Linked DNA regions of Homo sapiens: regions 2 and 3 are each linked to region 1. The links come from fine-mapping of genetic effects on gene expression. A gene starts in region 1. Each other region holds a variant in brackets. All regions are shown on one strand. Distances are from middle to middle.

Region 1 (4,240 bases):
AATGGCACAATCTTGGCTCACCACAACCTCCACCTCCTGGGTTCAAGTGATTCTCCTGCCTCAGCCTCCCAAGTAGCTGGGATTACAGGCGCCTGTCACCACGCCCAACTAACTTTTGTATTTTTAGTAGAGACAGGGTCTCGCCCTGTTGGCCAGGCTGGTCTTGAACTCCTGATCTTGGGTGATCCACCCCCTCGGCCTCCCAAAGTGCTGGGATTACAGGAATGAGCCACCACGCCCGGCTACTTTCTTCTTTAAATCAATTATATGGCCATTATTTATTTCATAAATAGGCATTCAGTGACTTTGAAATATTATGGTCCAGATAGAGACAACAGGGTTGTACAACAGAAATATGTAGGTCAAAATTTTAAATATTCTAGTAGTGACACTAAAAAATATAATAGATTGGCAAAATTTAGTAATCTATAATCTTGATCTACTACATCCAGAATGTTATTTCAACATGTGATTCATATAATAGTGACTAATGAGGTATCTTACACTCTTTTTTTGTAGTAAGTCTTTGAAATCCTGTGTGTATTCTACATTGACGGGACATCTCATTTTGGACTAACCACATTTCAAGTGCTCAGTATTCACATATGGATACTGTGCAGGACAGCACACACTAATTGGTAATGTAAATACAAGTTAGTTAAGATCTGTGAAGTACTTTATGGTTTCCAAAACTCTTTTGGCATTTAAATCTTGCGTCAGCCCCAGCAGGTAGATGTTTATCATTTCCATTTTGTAGAGGAGAGGCTGCAGCAATTACCTGTAAGTCACCCAAGCTCATCCAGCTAGTAAATGGTGAACTCAATTCTTGTCTTAAACCTGGGCACTTTCCCTTTTGCTTGCTTGCCTAAACAAGCAATACAAAGACAAACTTAATATTTATACACATACGTCCCATGGCTCATTGCAGTAGTACAGGACAGAAACAATTATTTCAAAATCCACCTACAATCTAGTCTCCAAAAATCCTGCCCAGTTTAATTGCACCACAATCTACTAACTGTAATTCTAAAAATGTGTATGTTGGATAATCTTCCAGCTCTAAAGTGCTGTGAATTAAAAAAATGCCATAGGCAGGCATAAAAAAATCCTACCCTCTATTATATTCTCCATCTGATATAGAATATATGATATATATTCTATAAATGAATACATGATACAGAGTCTATCATGTAGTGATTTACTTTTTACTTTTGTGAATTACAACGTGGTAGGGTAGGAAATGAGAAAGCTTAAAAAGCCTAATTTTCTCACTAAAGCATAACCAGACACAGCAGCCTATTAGGGGTTTCTCCAGAAGATGGCAGGCAGTCAAGGGGGACAGAGTTCGACCCGCGACAGGCCAACTGATTTCCCCAAAAAGATGCCAAGGGCAGCTAACCGCCCTCCTGGCCCGCGAAGCTGCTCCTTGAGGGCCCAAAACTTCCCGGAGGAGCCAGAGGAGGCCCTCAGGAGCCACAGCTCTCCCTGACTTGGCCTGTATTTGCACCCCTAGGGATCCCATTCCCTTTCCCGACGCAGCGCAAGGAAGGGGAGCGGAATGGGGGCTGAAAGGCAATAAAAAACTTGTAAAGCCGTATCTGCTAGTTCTCCCAGTGGGCTATGTCCCTGCAAATATCCTCCACAAGAAGTAAACTGGGTGGGTAGGAAGAGGTGAAGGCTCCCTCCTCAGGGCTGCCGGGACCGCCTCGAGGGCTTGTCTGTTTAGGTCCCAATTCCTCCCGGATCCGTACATTCACACGAGCGCAGGGCAACAATCTGAGCGAGTGTTCGTGTGTGCCCGTGTGACTCGCCATCGCGTGGCAGATGTTCAGTAGAACATTACAGTAATTTCTGTTACAGGTCCATGGGCGCAGGTCCCTGAGCCCACAGCTTCGCGGGGGTCTGGCCGAGCATGCGTCACAACCTACGCGGCCAAGAGCAGTGCGCACGCGCAACCTAACGCGGGACTGCCAGCAACTTCCGGGCGTTTACAGGCAGGCAGGTCAGTGATGTGTCCTAAGGGTCCGACCGACCTAGATACCCCTCTTTGATTCCTCCTCTTGGGATTAGTGTCCATCTCTGGAAGCAGGATCCAGGAGGACGGGAGGGGCCGCTGCGGACCGCAGTCGCTCCACCTGGAGGAGACACCAGAAGGAAGACAGCCTGAGGGACGCAGCCATCCCCGGCTCCTACCGGCGCCCCGCCCCGCGCATGCGCACGCGCACAGGGAGTCAGCTGGCTGCGCGGGAGGTCACGGGAAGTGGGGCGGTGCCCAGACAGCTGGAGGGAAGGAGGTGTCAGGCGGGGAGAGACGCAAACGGCGGGACCAGCAGCGACGGTAGCAGCAGCATGGCCGCGATCTATGGGGGTGTAGAGGGGTGAGTGCGGCCCGGCGGAGGGAGCCTGGGCCCGAAGGCGGGGCGGAAGGCCGTGGCCAGCCTGGCAAGCTGGTGGCCTTGATCCTCGGCGTCCGGGCACTTTGGGCGGCGGGACCTTGCGGTGAAGAGGTGTGTGCACGCGCAGGGGCGCCCTGGAGCGCACAGCTGTATGCCTTACGGGGACTCTGCCTGTGCAACAGCCACACCCCGGGTTGGGGATCCTTTGTGTTTCTTGGCGGAACCACGCCCCTTTCTTCCACGAAACACCCACTCCGCTGTCTTCAGCTGGAGAAGCAGCTCCTTTTTCCTATTCCTGACCTCGGACAGAGTTTTGCAGAACAGGTGTCAGGTGTGAAATTGCTGAGCGCGGGCAGGGTGGGGAGTGGGAGTGGGGAGAAGCGGGACAAAGATCTTGGCTGAGGTTATCCGGGAGCTGGAGCAGCTGCGAGCCAGAGTACTAGGTTGTCCTGATGTCTGAAAACCGCTCCATCCCTGTTGGCCTTCCATGCTGCTTTCACTAGATTGCATTTTTCTGCTCAGAAGCTTGTTTACTGAACTTTTTGTAATAGCTCTGCCCCTGGGTATGACCATGGACAAGATATTTACCCTCCCTGGGCTACAGTTACCGTATGTGCAAAGTGAGGATAGGGATAAATAAGATCGCTATGTCCCTGCCAGTGGCAACATTCTGTGAATCTGAGTTTGTCAAATCAGGGAATAATGGGGGTCGCTGGCCTCTCAGCCAGGGCACTGTACTTTCGAATCTGTGATTGTTTTCACTTCTCTGGCAGCCACACCCCACTGCTGATTCACAGACCCCAAAGTCTTTTCACATGAATTGTTAGGAATGATCTTTCCCATCCTGTATTTGTAGCACTTAAAAAAAACAGTATAGGAGTCTGCATTCATCCTTGTTATAGTCATCTGTAAGATATGACCCGTTTCTTCCAGTTCGTCAAGACATGCTTTTGGATGTGGAATCTGCCACCTCATGTATTAACTACCCCCTTGAAATTTCATGTCCTCTTTGAGTTTGATGAGCGGTCTTCAGTGTCTTCTTCTGCCATTCCTAAAAGTAATGATCAATAAAGAAACATATATCCCATCACCACAGATCTCCCTGTGAACTACTGTGACCCCCAGTAATCAACATTTGAAGGTTTAGTTGCTTAAGTATGTATGAAGTCACCCTGCCATCTGGTCAGCATTTCTAGCAAAGGTGTCTTGAAGACCTTGGCAGCTGGATCTTGAAATGCAGTCTTTAGCTATTGTGAGGGAAGCAGAGAGATGTGCCATTTTTCTTAGGAGTGTTTGCTGAGCATTGCCTGTGCCAGCTCCTGTGCTCGTTCTGAGAGGGTAAGTAAGTGATCAGGAGCTTGACCCAGTGGAGCTTGAAGTCTAGTGAGAGGCGGACACAAAGCGTCTGAACACACACTTCATACAGAGGAGACTTTAATAACTTTGGAGGCACTATGAAGGTTTAACTAACGGAGACTTAACTAATTCGTTGGGGTGGGCCACACCTCAGAAAAGGTTTCGAGGACTAGGTGAAGCGTAAGTAGAGTCTTGCAGGATAAGGAGGACATCCCCAAGGGAAGAGGAGTGAGAATTATGTTTCAGTTAAAGAGCACTCAAACACTGAACCACAGAGGCGGGTTTGGGAGTGGTGATTGAGTTTGTCGAAGCTGTCTCCTCCATCATACTGGGCTCTGCCAGTGTGGACAGCACAAGCTTAGCTCTCTCTGTGGGTTTTTCCGAGCAAGATCAAGTGCCCTCTTGTGTTCTGTAGGGGAGGCACACGATCCGAGGTCCTTTTAGTCTCAGAGGATGGGAAGATCCTGGCAGAAGCAGATGGACTGAGC
Region 2 (4,240 bases), 21 kb after region 1:
CTTGACTGAAGTAATGGGGGCTGTCTGTGAAGCCTTGCGGCAGTACAGCCCGGGTAATGTGCTGAGCCTAATGGGTGTCAGGGTCAGTCTAAGTGAAGGCAAAGAGAGGCTGGGACGAAGGGTGCAAAGGAATAGTAAAGAAAGCATGTTTGAGATCCAGAACAGAATAACAGGTAGTAGAGGGAGGTATTGAGGATAGGAGAGTATATGGGTTTGGCACCACGGGGTGGATAGGCAGAACAATTTGGTTGATAAGGCGCAGATTCTGAACTAACTTGTAAGCCTTGTCTGGTTTTAGGACAGGTGAAATGAGGGAATGGTAAGGAGAGTTTATAGGCTTTAAAAGGCCAAGCTGTAGCAGGCAAGTGATAACAGGCTTTAATCCTTTCAAAGCATGCTGTGGGATGGGATATTGGCATTGAGCGGGGTAAGGGTGATTAGGTTTTAATGAGATGGTAAGGGGAGCATGATCGGTCGCCAAGGAGGGAGTAGAGGTATCTTATACTTGTGGGTTAAGATGGGGGAATACAAGAGGAGGACGCAAAGGAGGCTTTGGATTGGGAAGAAGGGCATCAGTGAGATGCGGCTATGGTCCAGGAATAGTCAGGGAAGCAGATAATTAGGTTAAAATGTCTCAGCCTAATAAGGGAACTGGGCAGGTGGGGATAACTAAAAAGGAGTGCTTAAAAGAGTATTGTCTAAGTTGGCACCAGAGTTGGGGAGTTTTAAGATGTTTAGAAGCCTGGCCGTCAATACCCACAACAGTTATGGAGGCAAAGGAAACAGGCCCTTGAAAAGAAGGTAATGTGGAGTGGGTAGCCTCCGTATTGATTAAGAAGGGGACAGACTTACCTTCCACTGTGAGAGTTACCCGAAGCTTGTCGTCCGTGATGGTCTAGGGGGCTTCCGAGGCGATCGGGCAGCGTCAGTCTTCAGCCGCTAAGCCAAGAAGATCTGGGAAGGAGTCAGAGAGCCTTGGGCCAGAGTTCCAGGGACTCTGGGAGTGGCTGCCAGGTGAGTTGGACAGTCCGATTTCCAGTGGGGTCCCGCACAGATGGGACACGGCTTAGGAACAATCCTGGGCTGCAGGCATTCCTTGGCCTGGTGGCCACATTTCTGGCACTTGCAGCAAACTCCTGGGGGAGAAGGTTCTGGAGGAACGCCTGGCCACTGCGGTTCAGGCATTTGGAAGTTCTTGTGTGCTGGAGATGTGGCTGGGATTTGTCTCACAGTGGAGGCAAGGAATTGCAACTTTTTTCTATTATTGTACGCCTTGAAGGCAAGGTTAATTAAATCCTGTTGTGGAGTTTGAGGGCCGGAATTTAATTTTTGGAGTTTTATTTAATGTCAGGAGCATATTGGGTAATAAAATGTATATTGAGAATAAGATGGCCTTTTGACCTTTTAGGGTCTAGGGCTGTAAAGCGTCTCAGGGTTGCTGTCAAACGAGCCATGAACTGGGCTGGATTTTTATATTTGATGAAAAAGACCCTAAACGCTATCTGATTTGGGATAAAGAAAAAGGAGCATTAACCTTGATTATGCCTTTGGCTCCAGCCACCTTTTTAAGAGTAAATTGCTGGGCAGGTGGGGGAGGGCTAGTCACGGAACGAAACTGTAAGCCCGACCAGGTGTGAGAAGGGGAGGTGATAAAAGGATTATAGGGTGGAGGAGCAGAGGCTGAGGAAGAATTGGGACCTAGCTCGGCCTGGCGAGGAGGGGAGAGGTCAGATGGGTCTGTAGAAAAGGAAGATTAGAAAGACTCAGCGACGCTTGGGGTTGGTACTGAGGGGACAGGCGGGAGGGAAAGAGGGAAGATTTGGGATGAGTTGCACTGGGCACAGAGACTAGGAAGGGACTGATGTGTAAAAGAATGCCTGGACGTCAGGCACCTCAGACCGTTTGCCTATTTTACGACAAGAATTATTTAGATCTTGCAGGATGGAAAA[A/T]TTCAAAGTGCCATTTTCTGGCTATTTGGAACTACTGTCGAGTTTGTATTGGGGTCAAGCGGCATTGCAGAAGAAAATAAGGTTTTAGGTCAGGTGAGAATTGAAGAGGTTTTAAGTTCTTAAGAATACAGGCTAAGGGAGAAGAAGGAGGAATGGAAGGTGGAAGCTTGCCCACAGTGAAGGAGGCAAGCCCAGAGAAAAGAGTAGAGTCACGGAGAAGGGGTGGGGGTTTCTTGCCCTCCAGAAAAGCAGAGAAAGTGTTGGGGTACGGAAATAAGGGATTGGGGCGCAGAGATAAGAGGTTGGGGCGCAGAAATAAGGGATTGGGGCGCAGAGATAAGAGGTTGGGGCATGGAAATAAGCGATTGGGGTGCAGAGATAAGAGGTTGGGGCGCAGAGATAAGAGGTTGGGGCGTGGAAATAAGCGATTGGGGGGTTCTTGCCCCCTAGGAAAGCGGGACTTGCCGCTAAGGGCGAAGGAGAAGAGGTTGAGGGGTACTTGCCCCTGCCCCAGGAAAGCGGGACTTGCCGCTAAGGGTGAAGGAGAAGGGGTTGAGGGGTACTTGCCCCTGCCCCAGGAAAGCGGGACTTGCCGCTAAGGGCGAAGGAGAAGAGGTTGAGGGGTACTTGCCCCTGCCCCAGGAAAGCAGAGAAGGGGTAGAGACAAGGAGAGAAGAGGTTGAGGGGTACTTGCCCCTCTCCCAGAAAAGCAGAGAAGGGGTAGAGACATGGAGAGAAGGGGTTGAGGTACTTGCCCCTTCCCCAGAAAAGCGGGACTTGCCGCTAAGGATGAAGGACCAAGGCAGGCGTCCCTGCGTGGTCTGACACCCTTGAAACGTGGCTGAATGATCAGAGAGGCGTCCCTGCAATGATTAAACACCAGGGGAAGGCTGCCTTCCCAATCCGTGACCGGCGCCGGAGTTTTGGGTCCACGAATAAAACGTGTTTCCTTTGTCTCTCCCAGAAAATGAAAGGAATTGAAATTAAAAGAAGGGAGAGATTGAAGAGTGGAAAGGACAAAGTGGTTGAGGGACAGTGAGAGAGGTTGGAGAAGAGAGTAAGATGAGGCCACTTACCGAATTTGAAATTGGTGAGATGTTCTTGGGCTGGTCGGTCTGAGGACCTGAGGTCGTATGTGGATCTTTCTCATGGAGCAAAGAGCAGGAGGATGGGGGATTGATCTCCCAAGGGAGGTCCCCTGTTCCGAGTCACGGCACCAAATTTCATGCGCGTCCGTGTGAAGAGACCACCAAACAGGCTTTGTGTGAGCAACATGGCTGTTTATTTCACCTGGGTGCAGGCGGGCTGAGTCCGAAAAGAGAGTCAGCGAAGGGAGATAAGGGTGGAGCCGTTTTATAGGATTTGGGTAGGTAAAGGAAAACTACACTCAAAGGGGGTTTGTTCTCTGGTGGGCAGGAGTGGGGGTCACAAGGTGCTCAGTGGGGGTGTTTTTTGAGCCAGGATGAGCCAGGAAAAGGACTTTCACAAGGTAATGTCATCACTTAAGGCAAGGACTGGCCAATTACACTTCTTTTGTGGTGGCATGTCATCAGTTAAGTTGGGGCAGGGCATATTCACTTCTTTTGTGATTCTTCGGTTACTTCAGGCCATCTGGGCGTATACGTGCAAGTCACAGGGGATGCGATGGCTTGGCTTGGGCTCAGAGGCCTGTCAGTTAGCATTATAACCTTAATTAAAGAGACCCCAGGCTGAGGTGGCCCACCACACCCAGCCTATAATCCCAGCAATTTGGGAGGCTGAGGTGAGAGGATCACTTGAGCACAAGAATTTATGAACAGCCTGGGAAACACAGCAAGATCCAGTCTCTACAAGAAATTTAAATTTAAAAAAAAATTAGCTCTGCCTGATGGTGCATACCTGTTGTTCCAGCTACTCAGGAGGCTGGGCTAAAAGGATAGCTTGAGCCCAGGAAGATTGATGGAGTCTTCATGAATGAGATCAGTTTTCCTATAAAAGAAGCCTCAGAGAGCTGCCTTGCCCCTTCCACCATATGAGGATGCAGGGAGAAGCTACTATCCAAGGAGAAAGCACCAGCTAGAAGGAAGCTAACCTTCACCAAACACCAAATCGGCCCAGCCTCCAGAACTGAGAAATTTGTTTTTTTATAAGGTACCCAGTTTATGGTATTTTGTTTGGGCAGCCTAAATGGGCCAATGCAGTGGGTAAAATTTATGACATTGTGTCCAGAATTGGTGGGTTCTTGGTCTCACTGACTTCAAGAATGAAGCCGCGGACCCTCACGGTGAGTGTTACAGCTCTTAAGGTGGCGC
Region 3 (4,240 bases), 97 kb before region 1:
TTCTTTAATTTCTTTCAACTAAGTTTTGTAATTTTCAGGGAATAAGTTTTGTTCTTCTCTTAAATTTATTTCTAAGTATGTTATGCTTTTTGATGCCATTGTAAATGGGATTGTTTTCATAATTCCATTTTCAGATTGCTCATTGCTAGTGTATAGAAATACAAATGATTTTTGATATTGATCTTGTATTCTGTAATCTTGCTGACTAATTTATTACTTTGAATCGTTTTTAAATGAATTCCTTAGGGTTTTCAGTATACAAGATCATGTAATCTATAGAGATAGTATTACTTATTCCTTTTGAATCTGGATGCCTTTCATTTCATTTCCTTACCTAATTTCCCTGGCTAGAACCTCTAGCACAGTGTTAAATAGAGGTGGCAAGAGTGGACACCATTGTCTTGTTCCTGATCTTAAAGGGAAGTCATTCAGCTGTTCACCATTAAGCGTGATGTTAGCTGTGGGTTTTTCATAGATTTCCTTTATCAAGTTGAGGAAGTTCAATCTATTCCAAGTTTGTTGAGTGCTTTATAATAAGAGGTGTAGAATTTTGTCAAATGATCTTTTTTTGGCTACTGAGATGATCGTGGTTTTTTATCCTTTATTCCATTGATATAGTGCATTATATTGATTTTCAGATATCAAACCAAACCTATATTCTTGGGATAAGTTCCCTTTGTCATGGTGCACAATCTTTCTTAATATGTTATTGGATATTATTTGCTAGTGTTTTATGGAGGATTTTTGCATCTATATACACAAGAGATATTGGTCTGTAATTTTTTTTTCTTGTGATGTCTTTGTCTGATTTTAGTAGCAGGGTAATACTAGCCTAATAGAATGAGTTGAAATTGTTCATTTTTCGTTTATATTTTGGGAAGACTTTGTGAATAATTTGTATTAATTCTTCTTTAAATGTTTGGTAAAATTCACCAAACATCTGGACTTGGACTTTTCTCTGTCGGCAGTTTTTACTACTAACTACTACTACTACTAACTGATTATCTTTAATTATTATATGTCTATTCAGATTTTCCATTTCTTCCTGAGTCCATTTTGGTAGGCTGTGTTATTATGGGATTTTTTTCCCTTGTTATCTAAGTTATCTAAATTGTTGGCAAGTAATTGTTCATAATATACCCTTGTACTCCTTTTTATTTCTGTAAAGTACATAGTAATGTCCCCCTTCATCTCTTATTTTAATAAATTTAGTCTTCTCTCTTTTTTTTGGTCAGTCTAGCTAAAGGTTTGCCAATTTTTAAAAAATAATTATTTTACTGATGCATAATAGATGTAGATAATTCCAGAGTACATGTGATAATTTAATAGATTCACATAATTTTTAAAGATCAAATCAGCGCACTTGGGACATTCATCACCTTAAATATTTGTCTTGTCTTTATGCTAGAAACACTCAAATTATCCTCTCCTGGATATTTTGAAATGTACAATAGATTGTTGTAAACCATAGTCACCCTACTGATCTATCAAACACTAGGTCTTATTTCTTCAAGTTTGCCAAATTTGTTGACCTTTTTTAAAAACCAACTTTGAGGCCAGGCATGGTGGCTCATGTCTGTAATCCCATCACTTTGGGAGGACGAGGTGGAAGGATCACTTGAGCCCAGGAGTTCGAGACCAGCCTGGGCAACATAGTGAGACCTTATTTCTACAAAAAATTAAACAAAATTAGCTGGGCATGGTGGTATGTTCCTGTAGTCCTAGCTACTGAGGAGGCTGAGGTGGGAGGATCACTTGAGCCTGGGAGGTTGAGGCTGCAGTGAGCCAAGATTGTGCCATTATACTCCAGCCTGGGTGACAGAGTGAGATCCTGTCTCAAAAAAATAAATAAATAAAAAATAAAAACCGACTTTGAGTTTAGTTAATTTTCCCTGTTATTTTCATCAATCTCAAAGCAGTCTCTAATTTTCCTTGTGGCTTCTTCTTTGACCTATTTGTTATTTAGGAGTGAATTGTTTAATTTCCACGGATTCGTGAATTTCTCAAGTTAATTTCTTACTCATTTCTAATTTCATTCCCATGTGGTCAGAGAACGTTTCAATTATTTTAAACTTATCGGGTCTTGTTTTATGGTCCAGCATATTGTCTATTCTACAGAATGTTTCACGCGCACTTGAGAGGAATGTATACTCTGCTGTTGTTGGATGAAGAGTACAACAGATGTCTTTCAGGTTTAGTTGGTTGATAGTATTGTTCAAGACTTCTACTTCCTTGTTGTACTTCTGGGTACTTATTCTATCCATTACTGAAAGTGGGATATTGACGTCTTCAATTATTATTGTTGAATTGTCTATTTTTTCTTTCAATTCTGTCAGTTTTTACTTCCTATATTTTTGGACTCTGGTGTTAGGTGCTTATATGTTTATAATTGTTATATCTTTCTGATGGATTGACCCTGTTTTCATTATAAAATGTCCTCCTTTATCTCTAGTAACATACTTTGATTGTGGGTTTTATTTTGTTTTGATGTTCAAGTCTATTTTGTCTGACATTAGTGTAGCCACTTCATCTTTCTTATGTTTACTGTTTGCATAATATATCTATTTCCTTTTCAACCTACCTGTGTCTTTGAATCTAAAGTGTCTTCTGGGCTGGGTGCAGTGGCTCATGCCTGTAATCTCA[A/T]CACTTTTGGAGGCCAAGGTGGGAGAATCACTTGAAGCTAGTAGTTTGAGATCAGCCTGGGCAACATAGTAAGACCCTATCACTACAAAAAATATAAATAAATAAAAAATAAAATGTCTCCCATAGACAGCATATAGTTGAATATTGACTTTTATCCAGTCTGACTGAGTGTTATTACTGATATGGTAGTATATACATCTGTCATTTTACTTTTCTTTTCTTTTTGTTTTATTTATTTCTGACTTCATCACTTTTCATTTTCTGTATATGTCATGTCTTTTTCATTCCTCTGTTTCTCCTTTAATCTTTCTTTTGCATTAAGTGAATATTTTATTATGTAACATTTTAATTCCTTCAATCATTTTCCATTCTATTTTTTTCAGTTGTTTTCTTAGTGGTTACTCTAGAGCTTACTCTATTCATTTTAGCTTATCAGAATCTATTTCAGATTTATACTAACTTAATTCCAGTGAGATACTGAAACATTATTCTTCTATTACTCAATTCCCTTTTCTAACTTTTTGTACTATTGTTATACATAGCGCATATATAATATGCAAATAATACATTGTTATAATATTGCCTTGTATAGTTTTATATCATTTAAAGAAGCTGAGAAGGATAGTAAATATATATTTATAGAGTATATTATATTAATCTTCTATACTATTTCTGGTTCTTGTTATTTGTTCTCACGGGTATGAGTTACCATCTGCTGTTATGTCTTTATTCCAATACAGATTTGCTCCCACCCACCTCATTTTTGTTGTTATTGTCAAATAGATTACACTTCTATACATTATAGGCCCAACAATACAATCATATATGTTGTTTTATACAATTTATTTTTAAGTCAGTTAAGAGAAGGAGAAGAAATATGCATTTATATTGTTTTTGTAATTACATAGTCATCTTTACCAGTGCTCTTTGGATTTGTTTTGTTTTTATTTTGTGAAGATTCAGATTATGGTGTGGGGTCACTTACTTCTAGTCTGAAGAACTTCCATTAGTAATTCTTGTAAGGCAGGGATGCTAGCAACAAATTTTCTGAGTTTTTGTTTGTCAGGCAATGTCTTTATTTTGCCTTTATTTTCAAAGATAGCTTTTCTGGATATAAAATTCTTGAGAGTTGTTTTTTGTTCAGCATTTTGAATATGTTACCCATTACCTTTTGGCCTCCATTGTTTCTGATGAGAATTCAGCTATTGATCTTATTGAGGTTCCCTTGAATGTGATTTGTTCTTTTTCTCTTGCTGCTTTGAAAACTTTGTCTCTCAGCATTTTTAGTATGATGAGCTTAGGTGTGGATATATTTGTGTTTAACTTACTTGGAGTTTGCTGAGCTTTCTTAAATGTGTAGATTAATCTTTTTCATCAAACTTGGCTAATTTTCAGCCATTGCTTCTTCAATTACTTTCTCTGCTCTTTTCTCTCATCTCTCCTTCTGGAATTCCCATTATGAGTATGTTGGTGTGCCTAATGGTGCCCCCCGACTTTTTTTGAGGCTCTGTTTTCCTTCATTCTTTTTTCTCTTTGTTCTTTGGATTGCATAATCTCTACTGCCTATCTTCAAGTTTGCTGATCGTTTCTTCTGCAA

Evidence for each region. PIP is the estimated chance that this variant, and not a neighbour inherited with it, causes the effect.
Region 2: its variant is the best candidate, but not a certain one, in a credible set for the expression of NAGK in pancreas (GTEx, PIP 0.56).
Region 3: its variant is the best candidate, but not a certain one, in a credible set for the expression of NAGK in breast (GTEx, PIP 0.67).

Annotation. Positions count from the first base shown.
Region 1 is chr2:71,066,335-71,070,574 of GRCh38, forward strand. NAGK (N-acetylglucosamine kinase) reads left to right here and starts at 2,314. Exons shown (of 10, transcript NM_017567.6): 1 at 2,314-2,378; 2 at 4,168-4,240. The coding sequence starts at 2,350. RefSeq lists a silencer at 2,540-2,599.
Region 2 is chr2:71,087,375-71,091,614 of GRCh38, forward strand. No RefSeq gene overlaps it. Among named protein-coding and RNA genes, the nearest start is that of NAGK, 21 kb to the left of the region's middle. RefSeq lists an enhancer at 3,182-3,771. The variant A/T (reference allele first, on the strand shown) is at 1,950.
Region 3 is chr2:70,969,776-70,974,015 of GRCh38, forward strand. It overlaps LOC105374795 (a long non-coding RNA gene), which reads right to left. Exons shown (of 2, transcript XR_001739534.2): 2 at 2,954-4,240. Among named protein-coding and RNA genes, the nearest start is that of ANKRD53, 6.7 kb to the right of the region's middle. The variant A/T (reference allele first, on the strand shown) is at 2,644.